Regions from separate parts of the Homo sapiens genome. Here region 1 is linked to region 2. Evidence: fine-mapped expression QTL. A gene starts in region 2. The other region holds a variant in brackets. All regions are shown on one strand. Distances are between the middles of the regions. Region 1 overlaps FCGBP (Fc gamma binding protein). Region 2 holds the start of FCGBP (Fc gamma binding protein).

Region 1 (11,774 bases), 48 kb after region 2:
GGTCTCACTATGTTGCCCAGGCTGATCTGAACTTCTGGCGTCAAGCGATCCTCCCATCTCGGCCTTCCAAAGTCCTGGGATTGCAGGCTTTGCCACCAGGCCCGGCCTATAGATGCTCATTATTATTTTCAGCGGGAGGTGACATGCTCTGGGTCCCACAGCTAGTAGGTAGTGGGGCCAGGATTCAAACCCGTGTTTGCTCCGTTCACCGCTCCCCCACTGCCCACAGGTGGACGGCGTGTTCGTCACTCTGCCCTTCCAGCTGGACTCGCTCCTGCACGCACACCTGAGCGGCGCCGACGTGGTGGTGACCACAACCTCAGGGCTCTCGCTGGCTTTCGATGGGGACAGCTTCGTGCGCCTGCGCGTGCCGGCGGCGTACGCGGGCTCTCTCTGTGGCTTATGCGGGAACTACAACCAGGACCCCGCAGACGACCTGAAGGCGGTGGGCGGGAAGCCCGCCGGATGGCAGGTGGGCGGCGCCCAGGGCTGCGGGGAATGTGTGTCCAAGCCATGCCCGTCGCCGTGCACCCCAGAGCAGCAAGAGTCCTTCGGCGGCCCGGACGCCTGCGGCGTGATCTCCGCCACCGACGGCCCGCTGGCGCCCTGCCACGGCCTTGTGCCGCCCGCGCAGTACTTCCAGGGCTGCTTGCTGGACGCCTGCCAAGTTCAGGGCCATCCTGGAGGCCTCTGTCCTGCAGTGGCCACCTACGTGGCAGCCTGTCAGGCCGCTGGGGCCCAGCTCCGCGAGTGGAGGCGGCCGGACTTCTGTCGTGAGTACTGCTCCATGCATGGTCCACATGGTTGGGTCTCTCCCTGCCCTTCCCAGGACTGTAGGACAGCAGCCCCTTCCTCCTCCATGGGGCTCAGGGGCCACTTTCCTTCCCGAGCTCGGTATCTACTGTCAGGAAACACCTTGGCACTGACACACTGAAATGCCCCAAGTCAGGTACTGCAGTGAGAGAGAGTCAGTTAGAAACACCTAGTCAGAGTGTGGGCGCGGTGGCTCACGCCTGTAATCCCAGCAATTTGGGAGGCCGAGGCGGGCGGATCACCTGAGGTCAGGAGGTCGAGACTAGCCCGGCCAACATGGTGAAACCCCACCTCTACTAAAACTACAAAAATTATCCGGGCGTGGTGGCGGGCACCTGTAATCTCAGCTACTCAGGAGGCTGAGGCAGGAGAATCACTTGAACCCAGGAGGCAGAGGTTGCAGTGAGCCGAGATCGTGCCACTGCCCTTCAGCCTGGGTGACAGAGATTCCATCTCCAAAACAAAAAACAAACAAACAACAAACAACAGAAAAAAAAAAAGAAAGAAAAGAAACCTGGGGTCCAGGACACTCTTAGGGATTGGTGATCCATGCTTTCAGGTATCCAAGGCATGTAGATTGGGATGGCTGACCCTGCCTCTGTCACATAGCAAAGTACCCCTTGTTAGGAAGACCTAGTGAGTTTCAGCTGGTCAGAGGGCCCAGGTCTGTTGCACACACTGAAATACACCTAGTCACATGGAATTAGTCGCATACCTTCAGTGATATCTGCTTAAATTTTATACTGACTGGTCAGATACACTCAGAAAGAAACAGGATCCTGGCATAGCCTTGGGCAGATCCACACAGATGCATAGTTAGATAGTCCTAGGCGGTTCCCTTCAGGCAGGTCTCCTGGTCACAGGTATCCTGCCAACTTCACCCAGGCACAGCCTTAGGCAGACCATGTCAGAAGGACTCTGGGAGATGCTGCATGTCAGACACCCACAGCTGGGTGCCCTCAGGCAGAGCCATACCCTGAGATACATGTGGCCCCACACCCCAGTCACATTCACACGCTGAGATGCCCATAGTCAGTTCTGATCCTGCATACCCCGAATAGATATAAGTGATCCATTTCACCCAGGTAAGCCTGGCTTACATAGTGAGACCCCATCTCTACAGAAAATAATAATAAATCAGCCAGATGTGGTGGCTTACTCCTGTAGTCCCAGCTAATCGGGAGGCTGAGGCCAGAGGATTGCTTGAGGTTTAGGTGGAGGCTGCAGCGAGCTGTGATTGCGCCTCTGCACTCCAGCCTGGGTGAGATAGAGTGAGAGCCTGTCTCAAAAAAAAAAAAAAAAAAAATATCAGCCAAGCAGAGTCATTTGATCTTCAGAAATATTTGGTCAGAGAGACCTGGGCATGTCCCCTCCCATTCCAGGTCCCACGCTGAGTCCCCCAGTTAGATGTCCTGGATCACATGTGCATGCCCAGAGACGCCCAAGTTGGCCTGAGCAGTTTTCCCACTCAGGGCCTCCCAAGACTGCGACTCAAACACCTACCTGGCTGATGCCCACCTTGTCCCCACAGCCTTCCAGTGCCCTGCCCACAGCCACTACGAGCTCTGCGGTGACTCCTGTCCTGGGAGCTGCCCGAGCCTGTCGGCACCCGAGGGCTGTGAGTCGGCCTGCCGTGAAGGCTGTGTCTGCGATGCTGGCTTCGTGCTCAGTGGTGACACGTGTGTACCTGTGGGCCAGTGTGGCTGCCTCCACGATGACCGCTACTACCCACTGGGCCAGACCTTCTACCCTGGCCCTGGGTGTGATTCCCTTTGCCGCTGCCGGGAGGGCGGTGAGGTGTCCTGTGAGCCCTCCAGCTGCGGCCCGCATGAGACCTGCCGGCCATCCGGTGGCAGCTTGGGCTGCGTGGCCGTGGGCTCTACCACCTGCCAGGCGTCGGGAGATCCCCACTACACCACCTTCGATGGCCACCGCTTCGACTTCATGGGCACCTGCGTGTATGTGCTGGCTCAGACCTGCGGCACCCGGCCTGGCCTGCATCGGTTTGCCGTCCTGCAGGAGAACGTGGCCTGGGGTAATGGGCGAGTCAGTGTGACCAGGGTGATCACGGTCCAGGTGGCAAACTTCACCCTGCGGCTGGAGCAGAGACAGTGGAAGGTCACGGTGAGAGCAGATGGGGAGCAGGGGGCGAGGGGCCTGTGGGTAGGTGGGGCACAGGCAGCGCTCAGCCCAGGAGTTGGGGGCACAAGAGATGAGAGTGCATGTGCGAGGCCTGGGGTCTCTGAGGACAGAAGATGCCAGTCAGAACCGAGTGGGAAGCCAATGAGGGAGGTGTCATCAGGGACTTGGGAGCTGCTCCCCCATCTCTGTCCCTCAGTCTCCACCCTCTCTTTACCTCCATGCATTGACTTTTCTCTCCAAATTTCTCCCACCCTCTCCTCCCTCCCACTCCATCCTCTCTCCACCTCAGTCCTGGATTCTGCCCTACTCACCTCCCTAGTCTGCCACTTATTGGCAGGACGTGGTGCCATCAGAGGTTGAGAAAGTCCGAGTTTGAGAAGCTTCATGGACAGAGGACAATCTGTGGGTGACACTCTCACCGCCTTAACAACAACAACAGCAGCTATAGTTTCTATACAGCTGACTGCACACCTTTTGGCTGCCAGGCACTTCACGTCCATGGTGTCTGTATGCTTGCAACAGGGACTGCAGGCACTATGACTTGCTTTATTTTTCAGAGTGGGATGGCCCATCACTGGCCCATAGTCCCCCAGCAAAGGTGGAGCTTGAACCCCGTGCTGCTCTGCAGTGCTTTTCTTACTGAGAAGATTTGGTCTCATGTGGAGACTGGCATCTGAGTTACAGTGGAGGGGTTTCCCCTGAGATCCCACTGAAACAGACACGCAGCTGTTTTTCTAGTGGCAGTATTGGCGAAGGTGCTGATCAATTACTGACTTAATCTGGCGAACTGGACAGGCGTGACTTTTTTTTTTTTTTTTTTGGCACAGAGTCTGGCTTTGTCACCCAGGCTGGAGTGCAGTGGCGCGATCTCGGCTCACTGCAACCTCTGCCTCCCTGGTTCAAGTGATTCTCCTGCCTCAGCCTCCAGAGTAGCTGGGATTACAGGTGTGCAACACTATGCCCAGGAAATTTTTGTATTTTTAGTGGGGACGGGTTTCACCATGTTGGCCAGTCTGGTCTCCAACTCCTGAGCTCAGTGATCTGCCGGCCTCAGCCTCCCAAAGTGCTGGGAATAGAGGCATGAGCCACTGTGCCCGGCCGACATGCAGGACTTAATTGAATATATTCCCTAATGTTTCCCAAGCTCCTAGAATAGCCCCTGACATACAGCGCCTAAATACACAGGAGTTGTTGATGTTCTTGTTAGTTGCTTCTTACTGAAACCCCCAGCTTCCCTACAGATGTGGGAGCTCTTATTACCCCGCAGTTTACAGCTGAGGAAACTGAGGCAAGGCTAAGTCAGTTGCCCTTACCCACCGCCCAGCCCTGCTTGGGAAGTGTGGCAGTTGACCATCTTTTTAGGAGACTCAGCCAGGAGCATGTCTTTCTCCTGCCTTCTCCTCTGATTCTTCACATTTCCAAAAGAATCCGGTGTGCACTGTCTGTGATAAGGAAGGGTAAGAAAGCATGTTAATCAGGGGTTGATGTATTTATTTATTTTTTAGAGACAGGGTCTTGCTCTATCACCAAGGCTGGAGTGCAGTGGTGTGATCCTAGCTCACTGCAGCCTCAAACTCCTGCTCTCAAGCAATCCTACCACTTCAGCCTCCTGAGTGGCTGGGAGTACAGGCATGCACCACCATGCCCAGTTAATTTGTTTTCTTTTTTATTTTGTAGAGACAGGATCTCGATATATTGCTTAGGCTGACCTTGAACTCCTGGGCTCAAGTGATCTTCCCGCCTTGGCCTCTCAAAGTGCTGGGATTATAGACATGAGCCACTGTGCCCTGTCCAGGGGTGGATTTACCAGGCTTTGTTGGAGCCTAGTAAATCTTTAACTGAAACCACTGGTCCTCAGCTCATAGGTTTAAGTTCATTTCCCCAAGAATTTAGCCTAACTTTCCACTCGCTGATGCTTTAAAGCAAAAACCTGTGGTTCTGTTTACTCTTCAGAAGAAAAACTTCCACTCATAGCTGCTAATAACAGCAAATGCTCCTGAAGCATGCATGCTATGCCAGCCACGTTTCTCAGCACTTTACAGATACTAATTTATGTGATCCTGACAACAGTTCCATGGGGCAAACGCCTTATTCCCACTTGATAGATGAGGAAACAGAAACAGGGAGAGGTGACTCACTTGCCCAAGGTCACAAAGAGGGTAAGGGGGAAACTGTTTGAACTCGGGCAAGTGGCTCCGGGGGCGATCATTGCTTATTAATGGCTGCAGCAAGCGGTAAACAAAGGATAGCTGGAGGCTTGTTACTTCATCGAGACCTGTATTCGTTTCCCATGGCTGCCATAACAAATTACCACGAGCTTGGTGGCTTAAAACACTAGAAATGTATGTTCCACAGTCCTGGGTGCCAGAAGTTCAACATCAAGGTGTGGGCAGGGCTGCACCCCCTCCAAAGACACTGGTTGGGGGATCTTCCTTTCCCTTTCCAGCTCTGCAGACTCCAGGTTCTCTGGGCTTGTGACAACACCATTCTAATCCCTGCCTTCATCTTCATGTGGCCTTTTCTGTGTGTCTCTTTGCCTTTTTCTTTCTGGCTCTTATAAGGATACTAGTCATTGGATTTAAGGCCCAATTTAATCCAGGATAATCTCATGTTGAGATTATTACCCTGATTACATCTGCAAAGAACTTTATTCCGAGTAAGCTCACGCTATGGGATTCTGTGTGAATATGTCTTTTGGGGACCACCATTCAATCTACTATCAGGCCCTGTTATTATATCCATTTAATAAATAGGAAACTGAGGGCCTAAGAGGTGAGGTCACAAAGATCAGCATCAGGCATGGGCTTGAACTAGGGTCCCACCCTCACTCAAAGTATACTTTCTGAAGCGTGGCCTGCCTCTCTTCCCCTCCCAGGTGAACGGTGTGGACATGAAGCTGCCC[G/C]TGGTGCTGGCCAACGGCCAGATCCGTGCCTCCCAGCATGGTTCAGATGTTGTGATTGAGACCGACTTCGGCCTGCGTGTGGCCTACGACCTTGTGTACTATGTGCGGGTCACCGTCCCTGGAAACTACTACCAGCTGATGTGTGGCCTGTGTGGGAACTACAACGGCGACCCCAAGGATGACTTCCAGAAGCCCAATGGCTCGCAGGCAGGCAACGCCAATGAGTTCGGCAACTCCTGGGAGGAGGTGGTGCCCGACTCTCCCTGCCTGCCGCCGCCCACCTGCCCGCCGGGGAGCGCGGGCTGTATCCCCAGCGACAAGTGTCCTCCCGAGCTGGAGAAGAAGTATCAGAAGGAGGAGTTCTGTGGGCTCCTCTCCAGCCCCACAGGGCCACTGTCCTCCTGCCACAAGCTGGTGGATCCCCAGGGTCCCTTGAAAGATTGCATCTTTGATCTCTGCCTGGGTGGTGGGAACCTGAGCATTCTCTGCAGCAACATCCATGCCTACGTGAGTGCTTGCCAGGCGGCTGGAGGCCACGTGGAGCCCTGGAGGAATGAAACTTTCTGTCGTGAGTGAGGGAGAGCCGGAGGGGCAGGGAGGGGAGAGCTTGAGGCACAGAAGGGGTAGACCCTGGGCTTTGCAGCCCCTCCCTCCCCAGGGCTCTGATCGGCACCCCCTCCTTGCAGCCATGGAATGCCCTCAGAACAGTCACTACGAGCTCTGTGCGGACACCTGCTCCCTGGGCTGCTCGGCTCTCAGTGCCCCTCTGCAGTGCCCAGATGGGTGTGCTGAGGGCTGCCAGTGTGACTCCGGCTTCCTCTACAACGGCCAAGCCTGCGTGCCCATCCAGCAATGTGGCTGCTACCACAATGGTGTCTACTATGAGGTAGGAACCTAGTCATCTGGGGCAGAATATGGGGTCTCACCCCTCCCACTGTTCATCAGCCCCACGGCCTGTCTACTTAGCCTCTTATTTATTTCTTTTAGAGTCAGGGTCTCACTCTTGTCACCCAGGCTGGAGTGCAGTGGTACCATCATAGTTCACTGCAGCCCCAAATTCCTTGGCTCAAGCAATCCTTCACCTCACCTCCCAAGTACCTGGGACTATAGGTGCGCACCACCAAGCCCAGCGAATTTTTAATTTTCCTGTGGACACATAGAGATGGGGGCGTCTCACTATGTTGCTCAGGCTGGTCGTGAACTCCAGGCCTCAAGCCATCGTCCCGCCTTGGCCACCCAAAGTGCTGGGATTAATGGCATGAGCCACCATGCCCGACCCACTGAGCCTCTTTTTTTTTTTTTTTTAAAGATATAGTCTTGCTCTGTTGCCCAGGCTGGAGTGCAACCTCCGCCTCTCGGGTTCAAGCTCACTGCAACCTCAGCATCCCAGGTTGAAGCAATTCTCTTGTCTCGGCCTCCCGAGTAGCTAGGAGTACAGGCACGTGCCACCACACACGGTTAATTTTTTTGTATTTTGGTAGAGGTGGAGTTTTGCCATATTGGCCAGGCTGCTCTCGAACTCCTGACTTCAAGTGATCCTCCTGCCTTGGCCTCCCAAAGTGCGAGCATTACAGGCGGGAGCCACCACAGCTAGTCCACTCAGTCTCTTCAGTGTCTCTTGTACCCACTCCTTTCCCCGTCCCCATGGCCCTCCCTTGGTCCAGCTGGTCCTCTCCTACCTGGGTCCCTCCCAGCTCCTACCTCTGCTCCCTCTGGTCCACCCTCCACGTGGCAGTGGTAAAGATCTTTCTAAATATGACCACGGGCTCTGAAGCTTTAAACCCTCCCCTGACTCCCCAGGTCAAGTTGTGGCTTTGCCTTCCAGGTCTGGACGAAGGGAGCCTTTCTGACCACAAAGACAAGATTTCCATGTGTTATACCAGCTGCTAACACCCTCTACTTCCCTCTCCCACTCTGTCCCCGTAGGTCCTTTTTCTTTGACTGGAGCATGTGTTTGTCTAATGTCCATCTCCCTTGGGGACTGTGAGCTCTCCTAGGGGTGGAACCCTCTCTCTGTTGTTCTCCTCACATAAATAATATTAATAATAACAGAAAATGTGTAGATAGTGCTTACTATGTATCTGGTACCGTTTTAAGTGCTATGTGTGCATATTTTTATATATGCATTACATATCTAAAAACTTTTTATTCTGAAAACGTTCAAACATGCAAAAATTAAGAGAATAGTGGAATGACTGTCCATGTACTTACCCATCACTTAGCTTCAAAAATAAGCCATATTCTCCCGATCTTGTTTGATGTCTACCCCACGTATCTCTCCTATCTGAATGTTTTAAAGGAAACCCTTTTCTGTTTTTGTTTTTGTTTTTCCTTGAGATGGGGTCTCGCTCTGTCACTCAGGCTGGAGTGCAGTGGCGCAGTTTTGCCTCACTGCAAGCTCCGCCTCCCGAGTTCACACCATTCTCCTGCCTCAGCCTCCCGAGTAGCTGGGACTATAGGCGCCCGCCACCACGCCCGACTAATTTTTTGTATTTTTAGTAGAGACGGGGTTTCACCGTGTTAGCCAGGATGGTCTCAATCTTCTGACCTCGTGATCCACCCGCCTCGGCTTCCCAAAGTGCTGGGATTACAAGCATGTGCCACCGCGCCCGGCCTACCCTTTTCATTTTATCTAAATTTTACATGTCTGAATATAACTTGGTTATTATCTGAATATAACTTGGTTATTATCTGAATATAACTCAGTTATATTTCCAAAGGCAGGCGCTACTATCATCTGCAATCTGCAGATCATGAAACTGAGCCATAAAGAGGTGAAGTAACTGCCCAGAGTCACACACTTTGGAAACAGCAGAAACGGGCTTCAAGCCCAGGCGATCTGCCCTTAGTTACTGTGTCACACCATTTCTCCTACAGCAGACGTTGAGTGGATATTTTGGAATGAATGAGTAAATGAAGAAAAGTGAATGAACCAATGAATGATGGCCCCAAAGCCATGCTGTGCCTCAGCTTCACAGACAAGGGGCCATCCTGCTGAGAGATGTCCCTTGTCTGTGATGTCTGCCAAACCCCTCTGTGCCAGAACGCCAGAGATGTGAGAGTCGGCTCCCACCCGTGGTGTCCCTGATGGCCGTTCCCTCTCTCCCCACAGCCGGAGCAGACAGTCCTCATTGACAACTGTCGGCAGCAGTGCACGTGCCATGTGGGTAAAGTCGTGGTGTGCCAGGAACACAGCTGCAAGCCGGGGCAGGTGTGCCAGCCCTCCGGAGGCATCCTGAGCTGCGTCACCAAAGGTGCTGGGCTGGGCTGGGCTGGGACTGGGGCTGATGGGACTAGGGATGGAGGATGGGGACTCTGGGGCTGAGGGTAGTGTAACTGGGGTGTCCATGGCGGGAGGTGTACAGGACTAATGATTGAGGTTGCAGACCTGGGGAACCCTAGACCAGGTTTCACAGGGCCAGGGCCACCTACTTTGGGAGGTAGGGACCCTTAGGGAAAATCCAGGCTGTGGGGACCCTCAGAGATAGTTTTCTCAGGGTGGATGTCAGAGACCCTCGGTATAAGGCAGGGACAGGCGCGCCTTTGCTCTAATGTGCTACATGGTAAATGTTTAAGCTCGCAGGCTGTAGGTTCTCGTTCCAGCTACTCACTCTGCCACTGTGGCATGAAAGCAGCCGTAGACTATGTAAGTGAAGAGGTCAGGTTCCTATAAGACTTTAGAATACAAGAGCAGCAGCCTAGGGTTCCATCATGAGCGGAACACTGATGTGTGGGATCGGGCTTGGGGTTCAGACACTAGCACCAAAGGGCAGGGGAGAGATTGGGATCCCAGGGGCAGGGACAGAGAGCAGAGTTCTGAGTCTCACGCACGGAGACCTCACCAAGGCAGGACATTGGATATGGGGACCCCTCTTAACTGGAAGATCAGGATTTCTAGGGGTATAGTCTCTGATGTGGGAATCCCCCAGACTAAATCTGGGACACAGCCACCCCCAGGGCTCATTTCTTAGGGTGAAGAGCAGAGAACTCTCCTCCCCCTAAGGATAAGAGAATGGGAGCTCCAGCACCAAGGAGTGGGGGCTAAGACTCTCAGGGCTGATGAGCAGGATAATGGGGACTCCCAGGAATGGGGGGTATATCACTCAGCATCTAGTCGAGAGACAGAAAGCGTATGGCCATTTGAATGAGGAAAGTTTAATTAAAGAATCACTTACTTATTAATAGGAGATTAACTATTAAGGGTAAAGAGGGTCTGGTGCCGTGGCTCACACACCCAGAACTTTGGGAGGATCACTTGAGGCCAGGAGTTCGAGACCAGCCTGGGCAACATAGCGAGACCCCTGTCTCCACAAAAAATTGAAAATTAGCCAGGTGTGGTGATGCGTGCCTGTGGTCCCAGCTATTTAGGATGCTGAGGTAGGAGGATCAGTTGACCCCAGGATTTCGAGGCTGCAGTGAGCTATATGATTGCACCACTGCTCTCTAGCGTGGGCAAGACAGCAAGACCTTGTCTCTTTACAAACAAACAAATAAACAGAAATAAGAAACGGTAAAGAGAGCACTAAAGAATACCACCAAAGCACACACAGGAAGTAGCCGCCACTCTAGGGCTAAGTTAAAAGCCTCATGGAAGGGAGAAATTGGTCCCTCCTCTTCAAGGAGGGGAGAATCAGCCCCAAGGCTGAGTCCAGTCTCACTGCAGCTGTAGCCCACTGGGTGGCACAGAGGTTTCTGCAGGCTGGACTTGGCAAGAAGGGAACCCCTCACTGGGAAGCCAGCTGCGGCCAGTGGCACTCGCTGAATGTGGCCCCGCACCCTGGCCAGAGCTGAAAGGACCAAACTGGCTAGAAGCCAGACCCGGAGACCCTCCCTCCTGCAGTGACTCTCCGGCGCCCTCTGTTGACAAAGCTTAACTCCGTGGGTGTATTTGAAGCTGAGAGGCGGTACATTGATAATGGACACAGGAGGAAGGAGACGTTTGAAGGCTGGCCTCTCCCACACAGGGGTTCCGCAAGCTGGGGTCACAGATGTAGTAACTGTACGAACAGGGTCTCGGACACAGAAACCCCCCAGGACAGGGCCTCAGCAGTGAGACACGATGAAGGCTACTGTCTTGAATACAGCAACCCTCAGGGATGGAGTCTTGCACTGAGGGAGCCCAGCCCATGAGACTTAGCTAGTTAGGGTCTCAAACATTTCAAATCCTGCTGAGACCCTGGCACTGGGCTCTTGCCAGAAGATCACCCCAGGGCCCTAGTCTTGGGCATAGAGGCCTCCAGGACCTAGAGAAATTGGAGACCAATTTCTATCAAATGTGGAGATGTCCAGGGGGCTGAGGTCTCAGGCATGGGGGACCCTGAGACCTAGATCTTTTTTTTTTTTTTGAGCTAAGGTCTCACTCTGTGGCCCAGGCTAGAGTGTAGTGTAGCTTACTGCAGCCTCGATTTCCTGGGCTCAAACAATCCTCCCGCCTCAGCCTCCCGAGTAGTGGGGGACTACAGGCACACACCACCACGCCTGGCTAATTTATTAATCTTTCTGTAGAAATGGGGTCTTACTATGTTGCCCAGGCTAGTCTCAAACTCCAGGGCTCAAGCTATCCTCCCACCTCAGCCTCTTAAAGTGCTGGGATTACAGGCCTGAGCCACCACACCTGGCCTGGGGCCCAGGTCTTGAACACAGAGAACCCTGGGGCTGGGATCTCAGACATGGATGCTCTCAGGGCTGGCATCGCAGACACAAGGACCCCTGGGGCACAGATCTCAACTGGGGTCAAGTGCACCTTTTCTCTAAAGGGCTAGATGGTAAGTGTTTAAGCTTGCAGGCTATACCTTCTGGATCACAACTACTCACTCTGCCACTGTGGTGTGAAAGCAGCCGTAGCCTATGTAAGTGAAGACGGTGAGGTTCCTATAAAACTTAAAATACAAGAACAGGGTGAAATCTCAAGCAAGGG
Region 2 (11,774 bases):
AAAAATACAATAACTAAAATAAAAACTCACTGGAAAGGCTCAAGAGCAGAGCAACTATGACAAAGGAAATAAGAAGTGAACTTGAAGATAGAACAATAAAAATTACCCAATCCAAAAAACAGAGAGACAATCAACTTTAAAAAAGAGAAACAGAAAATGACTAACAAGGGCTCAGAGAACCTGCAGGACAATTATAAAATAGCTAACATTTGTATTATCAGATTAACAGAAGGAGAAAAGAAAGTGGGGCTGAAAAATATTTGAAGAATAATGACCAAACCTTCCCAAATTTGGCAAAAGACATAAACCTACAGATGCAAGAAGCTAAACAGAATAAATCTGACGGATTCCATGCCAAAACACAGTATAACTAACTTATGAAAACAAAGGCAAACAATGAAACTATCTTGGAAGCAGCTAGAGAGGAATTATAAATTGTCTATAGGGAACACTGATCAAATGACAAAAAATTTCTTATCAAAAACCATGGAGAAGAAAGCCTGGAGCAATACTCTTCAAGTGCTGAAAGAAAATAACTATCTGCTGAGAATCTTTTTTTTTTTTTTTTTGAGACAGTCTCGCTCTGTCCTCCAGGCTGGAATGCAGTGGTGTGCTTTTGGCTCACTGCAACCTCCACCTCCCAGTGATTCTCCTGCCTCAGCCTCCCAAGTAGCTGGGACTACAGGCGCCCGCCACCATGCCCGGCTAATTTTTGTACTTTTATTAGAGACAGGGTTTCACCATGTTGGCCAGGCTGGTCTGGAACTCCTGACCTTGTGATCTGCCCGCCTCAGCACCCCAAAGTGCTGGGATTACAGGCGTGAGCCACTGTGCCCAGCCGAGAATCTTATATGCAGCAAAACTATCTACGGGGTATGAAGAAGAAATAAAAAGCTTTTAGATGAAGGAAGACTACAAGACTTTGCCGTCAGCAGAATTATTTTTAGAGAATGATTAAAGGAAGTTCTCCAAAGTCCAAATGATTACAGGAAAAGGCTCAGAACTTTAGAAAGGAAGGAAGAACAGCAGAATGGACAAAAATAGTGATAACTATAGCAGATTACCCTTCTCATGAGTTTTTAAAAATCGTAGTTGGTTGAAGCAAAAATTATAGTATTATCTGATGTCTATAGGAAGAGACAATACTTAAAATAGTTATATGTGTATACACACACACGCATATGTATAAGTGGGAGGGTAAAAGGATCTATATGGATGTAAAGTTTCAACACTTCAATCAAAGTGGTAAAATATTCATAAGTTGGATTATAATCAGTTACATATGTATATTGTAGTACTAGAGCAAGTGCTAAGAAAATTCTACAAATTATGTATTCGAAAATAATATGAATCAAAATGGAATGCTAAAAAATGCTCATGTAACTCACAGGAATGCAAGAAAAAATAAGAATGAGAAATGGAACAAATGGAAAATGAATATTAAAATGTTAATCTTAAGTCCAAACATATCAATAACTACTTTAAATGTAAATAGTCTATCTCCTTACATGAAATAAAAGGCCAGAGATTGGTAGAGTGGATTTAAAAAATGATCCAACTAGATACTGTCTCCAAAAAACTTTACTCCAAATATAACAACATAGGTAGGTTGAAAATAAAAGAATAGAAATATATATTAATTTTATTAATTTATGTTATTATAAATATAAATTTTAGGCTGGGTGCAGTGGCTCACCCCTGTAATCCCAGCACTTTGGGAGGCCAAGGCAGATAGATCACTTGAGGTCAGGAGTTCAAGACCAGCCTGGTCAACATGGTGAAACCCCGTATCTACCAAAAATACAAAAATTAGCCAGGCGTGGTCACAGGTGCCTGTAATCCCAGCTACTTGGGAGGCTGAAGCAGGAGAATTGCGTGAACCTGGGAGGCAGAGGCTGCAGTGAGCCGAGATCATGCCCTTGCACTCCAGCTTGGGCAACAGAGCGAGACTCTGTCTAAAAAATAAATAGATAAATAAATAAATAAATATATATATAATTTTAAATATAAATTTTTAAAAGGAAGGAAGTACTATATTAATACGAAAATACTTTCCTTCAGAGCGAAAAACATTGCTAAAAACAAAGGATCATTCTGCCAAGACATTGCAATCCTAAGGTATATGTACCAAACAACAGAGATTCAAGTACATGAAGCAAAAACTGATAGAGCTGAAAGGTGAAATAGACAAGTCCACAAATATAGTTGGAGAATTAAAAACGTCAGTCTCACCAAATTGATAGAACTACCAGGATAAAATATGTGAGAATATCAAAGAACTGAATAACAGCATCAATCAACAGGATCTAATTGATATTTATAGAATGCTCTATTCAACAATAGACAAATCCACAAATACATTTGGGAAATTCAAAGACTTGCTCTTGTTAGCAACAACAACAACAACAAAGAAGTAGTTCTTTCGTTTCATTGATTTTCTCATGTTCAGTTTTATTAATTTCTGCTCTTCATTATTTCCTTTCTTCTGCGTTGTGTTTGTTTTGGTCTTTTACTACTTTATTGTGTAAGAAGAGCTTAGAATATTGGTTTAAGAACTTTCCTCTTTCCTAATGTAAATATTTAATGCCATAAATTTCCCTTTAGCTATATCCCACATATTTTGAAATATCTTCTTTTCATTTTCATTTAATTCTATGTATTTTTGATACTTCCTCTTTGGCCCATGGATTATTTAGAAGTGAGTTGCTCAATATCCTTGTGAGTGGAGATTTTCCTGTTTTTCTGTTATTCATTTCAAGCTGATTCCATTATGGTCAGAGAACATCTCCTATAGAATTTCAATTATTATAGGCAGAGAGGAAGTGTGAATGTCAAATGTTAGAGGGAAGGAACTAGAGGCAAGTGGCAAATAATGGGTCATTGGAGAGTTTAACAAAACGTTCAGTGCTTATGGAAGTCGGATTGTGGGATCCAGAGCGTAAAGGAATTAAGTTAGAAATTGCCCGCAAGCCTGAATTTAGCTGGAGAGAGTAAATTCTCTTCCACTGTGCTCCAGTCTATAAAGCCAAGACTAGTCAGAGGGGCCCAGGGGTCTGGGATGGTATAGCCAGTGCCCATGCTGCAAGGAGACGGAAGCAGATAAGCAGGAAGAGGCCGAAAGGCTCAGGTACACAAATACCCTTGTTTGGGCTCAGAGCAAGGCTGCCAGTGGAGGGATGGATGCGATTTCTCTGACCATAAGGAAGTGTCCCCAGAGTTTATTTCCCGGGTCACCAAAGGGTTTCCTGAGAATTGATATAATACAGGGTAAAGCACAGGGGTGTACACACACACATACACACACACACACACACACACCCACACACACACCCACACACACACCACTTGGGCCTTAAAAGGAGTGAGAAAGAAGACCCAAGGGGATTGGCACATACAGAGTATTAATTTGTGAGATCTCCCACCACAACCACCCCATTTCTGGGGACTCTGGCTGTGGAGAGCGATGATGAATTTTGAAGGCAGGAAGCTTCTTTCTGTGATCAACCAGGGGAAACCCCAAGGCTTAGAGAGAATTGAGGGCCAGAAACACCCATGAAACTCACCCTGATTCTTTCCCTTCACCTCCCATTTGTCTCTGAGTGCCTCTAATTACAAGAGGCATATGGCACACAGAGGATTTTATTTTCTTTTTTCTTTTTCTCCCCAGGCCAGAATGCAGTGGCATGATCACGGCTCGCTGCAGCCTCAGACTCCTAGGATCAAGCAATCCTCCCACCTTAGCCTCCTGAATGGTGGAGACTACAGGTGCATGCCACCACACTCGGTTTATTTTTATATTTTTTGTAGAGAAAGGGTCTCACTATGTTGCCCAGGCTGGTCTTGACCTTGTGGCCTCAAGTGATCCTCCTGCCTCAGCCTCCCAAGTAGCTGGGACTACAAGCGTGCACCACCGTGCCTGGCTAATTTTTGTATTTTTTTGTAGATACAGGGTCTCACTATGTTGGTCTTGAACCAGGCTGGTCTCAAACTCATGGCCTTAAGCAATCCTCCTGCCTCAGCCTCCCAAAATGCTGGAATTATAAGCTGAGCCACTGCGCCTGGCCTCAGACAGAGAATTTTCACATCTTGGTTTGCAATTGCTGTTTCCTCCTAGGAATCCCGACGTCTCCTCCTCCGAGTCCTTCTCTGTCTCAGGGACCCAGCAGCCCCTTCCACCAACTTTTAGACCCCTCAGGGACCCAGGCATCCTTTTCCCAAAGCTTCCACTTCCTGTGGGTCCCCTGCCCCTGCTTGTTTCTTGTTATCTCTGGCTTTTAGCCAGTCTCCTATTTACTCACCTCATTCTCCTGGTTGACTTTATGTCCCAGTCAACTCTTAGCCTTTATCTTTCCCTCCAGGAACGTTTCTTGGGTGGGCGTGGGGATTGGTTGGAGCTCCAGGGAGAGAGAAGCCCCCCACCCGCTCTGGCCTCCCAGAGGCCCAGGCTGCTGTGATAAGAGAGGAGGAGCCCCAGGGGCAGCAGCTGCTAGGGTGTTGGTCCAAGAGAGCACCCAGGCTTTGCAGCTGCTGGTCCCAGGGGAGACTCCCCCAGCAAACAATGAGATCCTGAGTCAGGGAGAAGGCAGGCAGGGCATGGGTCAGGCCAGCCCCTCAGAGGAGCTGACTCCAGCTGAGAAAGCCCAACTTTCAGCTCATTCTTCTGCTCCTTGTGTGCAACCTAGACCTCCACCTCCCATCTCAGGCAAATTCTGGGGTGATGGAGAGGCACAGAGTCCCCTAAACCTGTTCAGCTAGCCCCTGCTAAGAGCAAACCCTCCCTACACACAAAAAAACTCCAAAACCAACAGGTCCTGGCTCTTCCTCAGTCCTCACAGGCTGGGGAGTCCCTGGCCACCTATATCCTGTTTCCAGCACCACTGAGGAGCAGGTGTCTGGGATCAGAAGTAGAATCTGGGTGTCTGTGTGGAACCAGGAAACAGAGGCCATTGTCCCTTCTTCACACACCGCCTCAGTCCCAGTGCCCACCTGCAGCCTGGCCTGCGCCCACACCAGAGGAGGCTGCCCCCCAGCTCTACAGTCCTTGAGAATTTTTTTACATCTCTGGGACGTAAAGATGCCCAGAGAGGCTGGTTTTGGTGTTCCCATTTTGCAGATGAGAAACCGCAGACGCCCCACTGGGCTGCGGTGGAGGTCTTGTGTCCCACTCCATAGCCTCAGACTCCTGCCCATCCCAGACACCTGCCCCTAGTGGTGTCTGGAAGCAGGATGTGGGTGGCTAGGGACTCCCCAGCCTGTGGGGACTGAGAAGGAACCAGGACCCGGATATGGGTCCCTCACTGTTGTTCCTGGCAGGAGCCAAAGGAAGGAACCTAGCCACTAAGCCAGCAAATATGACCACATGCCACCTCCCACCCTCACTGCCCACACCCCCACCCTACCCCACCTCCACCCAGGGACCCAGGTGCTCATCTGCCTGCTCCCCAGCTGTCTCCCTCAGGGACCCCACCCTTCCAGGACCAAACTCTCCAGAAGGCTTCCAGGGAATGGCCACCAGCTGTCCTCACTCCCTTCTTGGAACCCAGGCATCCAGAATCACTGTCCCTCCTTCCCAGGCCTTCACAGTTTCCCATTTCATCTGGCCATGAGGATGGCAGCCTCCTCCAGGAAGTTGGCATCATCTGCCTGGCACGTGGCCCAGGGTGTGGCCCAGAAACTCCACTATATAGCCCTGCCACAGGGCTGGCCCTGCAGCTCCAGGGACCTGCAGGTGAGAAGGGCTGGGGTCCCCTTTGGAAGTGGGACAGCAGGTCCCCTACTCTTGCCCCTGACTGTAGGCCTCCTCATCCTACCCCTAGACCCACAAGACAGCCAACTCTCCACCCCGTCCCTGGCTTCTGCCCTCCCCAACCCACCTCCAGACCCGCTGGACAGCCAGCCTCCCCTATACACACACACTGGTCCTTGGATCCATACCCCCTGGCCCAATCTGCCCGACTTCTTTCCCCACCTCAGCCTTCATGGTCCCAGGTGGCCCTTGTCATGAGAGTGGGCCCTTCTGCCCAGGACAGTCTCCAGCAGAGGCGGTGGATCAGCCTTCTATGATCCTTTCTCTTTTCCTACTGCAGCCATGGGTGCCCTATGGAGCTGGTGGATACTCTGGGCTGGAGCAACCCTCCTGTGGGGTAAGTCAGACCAAGACCCTCTCCATGTCCTTGTTCCAATCTGGGGAACTCTGCGTGGGTCCACGCCTTCCATGTGTGCCTCCTCCACATGTCACCCCAGGCTAGCTGAGACAGGAGAGAGGCCCTTAGGCTCTGCAGGGGGATGTGGTAGAATTCACCAATTCTCACCCTTTTCTGGATGGGAGCACAGGCAAAAACCTTAGTCCCCAAACTCAAGTGTGCAAGAACTTTCTTGGTTTTCTGCAACTCAACTAAGGTTTTGACTCTGAGCCTCATTCTGCTAAGTTGATGGAAAATTTCACGAAAGTCATTCTTGGAGGGTGTTGTCCCCACTTCTCCCAGGGATGTGTCCAGAACTAAAATTTTGGATAAAGCCAAAGTACTGGGGGGAGGATGGGATATGAGGACCCTCTCGTCACCAGTCAGCATCCATCTAGGTTACTTTTGAAATGTCCATTGTTCCTGATCCCCTGGCCCCCTGGGATATCCTTCAAAGCCCCCTTTATATGGAAGGTGGTCATTCCATAGCCCCCACACTCTCTTCAAGATTCCTTAGACCTCTCTCTCCTCAGCCCCAGGGACGCTCTTCCTAGTTGGGGGTGGTCAGAAGCCCCCACTGCCATCTATTTCTAGGAGACAATTCATTCACCCTTCCATAATCCCCTTCTTCTCTTTATCCCCTTTTCACAAACCCCCAAGTCCCATTATTATTATTATTATTATTATTATTATTATTATTATTTGAGATGGAGTTTCACTCTTGTTGCCTAGACTGGAGTGCAATGGTGTGATCTCAGCTAATTGCAACCTCCACCTCCTGGGTTCAAGCGATTCTCCTGCCTCAGCCTCCCTAGTAGCTGGGATTACAGGCGCCCCATGCCACCATGTCCGGCTAATTTTGCATTTTTAGTAGAGATGGAATTTCACCACGTTGGTCAGTCTGCTCATGAACTCCCGACCTCAAGTGATCCACCCGCGTTGGCTTCCCAAAGTGCTGGGATTACAGGCAAGAGCCACCGCGCCTGGCCCCCACAAGTCCTATTAAGACAAAAACCAGCTGGGTACAGTTGGTCACGTCTGTAATCCCAGCACTTCGGGAGGCTGATGCAGGAGGATCACTTGAGCCCAGGAGTTCAAGACCAGCTTGGGCAACAAAGTGAGACCCTGCCTCTAGAAAAAAATTAAAAAATGAGCCAGGCACACAGTGCGTGCCTGTGGTCCCAGCTATACCAGAAGCTGAGACAGGAGGATCCCTTGAGCCCAGGAGGTTGAGGCTGCAGTGTGTTGTGTTTAAGCCACTGCACTCCAGTTTGTAAAAAGATGGAAATCATACACTGGCAGCAGAGTACATCCACCTTGAGCCCCAAAGTGCTTAAAACAATTGTGGGTTGGAGATTTCACATGAAAATTCAGATAGCCACATTCTCTTTAAAAACAGAAAGAACGGCCAGGCGTGGTGGCTTACGCCTGTAATCCCAGCACTTTGGGAGACCGAGGCAGGTGGATCACCTGAGGTCAGGAATTTGAGACCAGCCTGGCCAACAGGGTGAAACCCCATCTCTACTAAAAATACAGAAATTAGCTGGGCGTGGAAACCGGGAGGCAGAGGTTGCAGTGACCCAGGATCGCGCCACTGCACTCCAGCCTGGGTAACAGAGTGAGACTCCATTTCAAAAGAAAAAAAAGAAAAAATACAAAAGTTAACTGTGCCTGGTGGCGCACACCTGTAGTCCCAGTACTCGGGAGGCTGAGGTGGTAGAATCACTCGAACCTGAGAGGCAGAGGTTGTGGTGAGCCGAGATCGTGCCACTGCACTCCAGCCTGGGTGACAGAGCGAGACTCCATCTCAGAAGAAAAAAAAAAAGAAAAACAGGAAGGTCTTACAATTTAAAAAAGCTCACATTCTTTCATTATAACAGGTGAAAGCTAGTACCAACAATCCACTTTTTTTTTTTTTACTAGTTTATATATTTTTAAAATTTTTAATTTTTATGGGTTTGCATTTATGGGGTACCTGTGATATTTTGATACAGGCATACAGTGTGTAATGATAAAATCAGGGTAACTAGGGCATCCCTCACTTCAAGCATTTGTCATTTCTTTGTGTTAGGAACATTCCAATTCCACTCTCAGTTATTTTAAAATATACCATAAATTATCGTCAACAATAGTCATCCTGTTCTGCTACCAAATACTAGATTTTATCTATTTTATCTAACTGTTTAACTGTATTTTTGTACCCATTAACCATATCTACTTATCCCCCAGTCCCCGCTACACTTTCCAGCCTGTGGTAATCATCGTAACCATCATTTTACTCTCTATTTCTATGAGTTCATCAGTTAAAAATTTTAAATTCCCATCTATGAGTGAGAACATGTGAAATTTGTCTTTCTATACTGGCTTATTTCACTTAACATCATGTCCTCCAGTTCCATCCATGTTGTTGCAAATGACAGGATCTCATTCCTTTTTTTTTTTTTTTTTTGAGACCGAGTCTCACTCTGTTGCCCAGGCTGGAGTACAGTGGCGCGATCTTGGCTCACTGCAACCTCCGCCTCCCAGGTTCAAGTGATTCTCGTGCCTCAGCCTCCCGAGTAGCTGGGATTACAGGTACATGCCACCATTCCTGGCTAATTTTTGTAGTTTTGGTAGAGACAGGGTTTCACCATGTTGGCCAGGCTCGTCTTGAACTCCTGACCTCAAGTGATCCACCTGCCTTGGCCTCCCAAAGTGCTGGGATTATAGGTGTGAGCCACTGTGCCGGGTGATCTCATTCTTTTTTATGGTGGATAATTCTCCATTGTTTGTATGTACCAAATTTCCTTTATCCACTCATCTGTTGATGGACACTTAGGTTGATTCCGTATCTTGGCTATTAGGAATAGTGCTGCAATAAACATGGGAGAGCAGATGTCTCTTACATATACTGACTTCCTGACTTGGAAGGAAAGGAATTGCTGGATCATACAGTAGTTCTAGTTTTAGTTTTCTGAGAAACCTTCATATTATTATCGATAGTGATTGTACTGATTTACATTCCCACCAACAGGGTAACAGGGTTCCCTTTTCTCCACATGCTCAGCAGCATTCATTACTGCCTTTCATTAGGATAAAAGCCATTTTAACTCGAGTGAGATGATATCTCACTGTGGTTTTAATTTGTGTTTCTCTGATGATTAGTGATGTTGAGCATTTTTTGATATACCTGCTGGCCATGTGTATGTCTTCTTTGAGAAATGTCTATTCAGATCTTTTGCCCATTTTAAAATCAGATTAATCCGGGCGTGGTGGCTCACGTCTCTAATCCCAGCACTTTGGGAGGCCGAGGCAGGCGGATCACTTGAGGTCAGGAGTTCGAGACCAACCTGGCCAGCATGGGGAAACCCTGTCTCTACTAAAAGTACAAAAATTAGCCGAGCATGGTGGCGCATGCCTGTAATCCCAGCTACTTGGAAGGCTGAGGCAAGAGAATCACTTGAACCCAGGAGGCGGAGGTTGCAGTTAGCTGAGATCGTGCCACTGCAGTCCGGCCTGGGGTGACAGAGTAAGACCCCATCTCAAACACACACACATACACACACACACACACACACACACACACACAAATCAGATTATTTGATTTTTTTCCTATTGAGTTGTTTGAGCTCCTTTTATATTCTGGTTATTAATCCCTTGTCAGTACCATCTAGAAATGCTACTGATTTTTGTATGTTGATTTTGTATCCTGCAAATTTAGTGAATTTGTTTATCAGTTCTAATAGCTTTTTGATGGCGTCTTTAGGTTTTTTTTAAATATCAGATTATATCATCTGCAAACAAGGATAATTTGACTTCTTTTTTTTTTTTTTCCAGTTTGGATGCCTTTATTTCTTTCTCTTGTCTAATTGCTTTAGCTAAGATGGGTTGTATATATTTTCTCTTATTCTGTCAGTTGTGTCTTCACTTTGTGGATTGTTTCCTTTGCTGAGCAGAAGCTTTTTAGGTTGATGTGATCCCATTTGTCCATTTTTCTTTGGTTGCCTGTGCTTTTGATGTATTACTTAATAAATTTTTGCCCAGACTAATGAACTGGAGAGTTTCCCAAATGTCTTCTTGTAGTAGTTTCGTAGTCTGAGGTCTTAGATTTAAGTCTTTAATCCATTCTGATTTGATTTTTGTATGTGGTGAGAGATAGGGGTCTAGTTTCACTCTTTGCATATGGATATCCAGTTTTCCCAGTACCATTTATCTTCAATAAATGCAATGTATGTTCTTGGGATCTTTGTCAAAAATGAATTCACTGTAGGTGGGTGGATTTGTTTCTGGGTTCTATGTTCTGTTCCACTGGTCCATGTGTTTGTTTTTATGCCAGTACCACACTGTTTTGGTTATTATAGTTTTGTAGTATAATGTGAAGTCAGGTAATGTGATTCCTCCAGTTTTGTTCTTTATGCTCAGGATGGCGTTAGCTATTCTGGGTATTTTGTGTTTCCACACAAATTTTGGGATTAGTCTTCTATTTCTGTGAAGAATGTCACTGGTATTTTTATAGAGATTGCATTGAATCGGTAGATTGCTTTGGTTAGTATGGACATTTTAACAATATTGTGTCTTCCAATCCATGAACATGGAATATCTTTCCATTTTTTTTGGTGTGTGTCCTCCTCCATTTCTTTCATTACTGTTTTATAGTTTTCATTGTAGAGATCTTTCATTTCTTTCGTTTATTCCTAGGTGTTTTATTTTATTTGTGGCTATTGTAAATGGGATTACTTTCCTTTTTTTTTTTCAGATTGTTTGCTGTAAGCATATAGAAATGCTACTGATTTTTGTATGTTGATTTTGTATCCTGCAAGTTTAGTGAATTTGTTTATCAGTTCTAATAGCTTCTTGATGAAGTCTTTAGGTTTTCTGTTTTTTTTGTTTTGTTTTTTGTTTTTTGTTTTTTGAGATGGAGTTTTGCTCTCGTTGCCCAGGCTGGAGTGCAATGGTGCCATCTCAGCTCGGTGCCATCTCAGCTCACTACCATCTCTGCCTCCCAGGTTCAAGCGATTCTCCTGCCTCAACCTCCCGAGTAGCTGGGATTACAGGTGTCTGCCACCATGCCAGGCTAATTATTTTTTTGTATTTTTAATAGAGACAGGTTTTACCACGTTGGTCAGGATGGTCTCAATCTCTTGACCTCTTCATCTGTGCAGCTCAGCCTCCCAAAGTGGTGGGATTACAGGCTTGAGCCACTGCACCCAGCCAAAGTTGTTTTTTTTTTTGAGACAGAGTCTTGCTCTGTCATCCAGGCTGGAGTGTGGTGGTGTGATCTTGGCTCACTGCAACCTCCACCTCCTGGGTTCAAGAGATTCTCTTGCCCCAGCCTCCCGAGTAGCTGGGACTACAGGCATGTGCAACTATACCCAGCTAATGTTTGGTTTTTTTTTAGTAGAGATTGGGTTTCGCCATGTTGGCCAGGCTGGTCTTGAACTCCTGACCTCAGGTGATCCACCCACCTCGGCCTCCTAAAGTGCTGGGATTATAGGCGTGAGCTACCAAGCCCAGCTGTCTTCAGGTTTTTCTAAATATAAGATTATATCATCTGCAAACAAAGATAATTTGAATGCCCTTTTTCCAGTTTGGATGCCCTTTATTTTTTTCTAT

Evidence for each region.
Region 1: its variant is fine-mapped to the expression of FCGBP in iPS cells (PhLiPS, PIP 0.95).

Annotation. Positions count from the first base shown.
Region 1 is chr19:39,880,642-39,892,415 of GRCh38, reverse strand. It overlaps FCGBP (Fc gamma binding protein), which reads left to right. Exons shown (of 36, transcript NM_003890.3): 22 at 230-773; 23 at 2,345-2,937; 24 at 5,831-6,425; 25 at 6,544-6,743; 26 at 8,970-9,111. Among named protein-coding and RNA genes, the nearest start is that of FBL, 40 kb to the right of the region's middle. RefSeq lists an enhancer at 6,198-6,699. The variant G/C (reference allele first, on the strand shown) is at 5,858.
Region 2 is chr19:39,928,933-39,940,706 of GRCh38, reverse strand. FCGBP (Fc gamma binding protein) reads left to right here and starts at 6,073. Exons shown (of 36, transcript NM_003890.3): 1 at 6,073-6,143. The coding sequence starts at 6,089.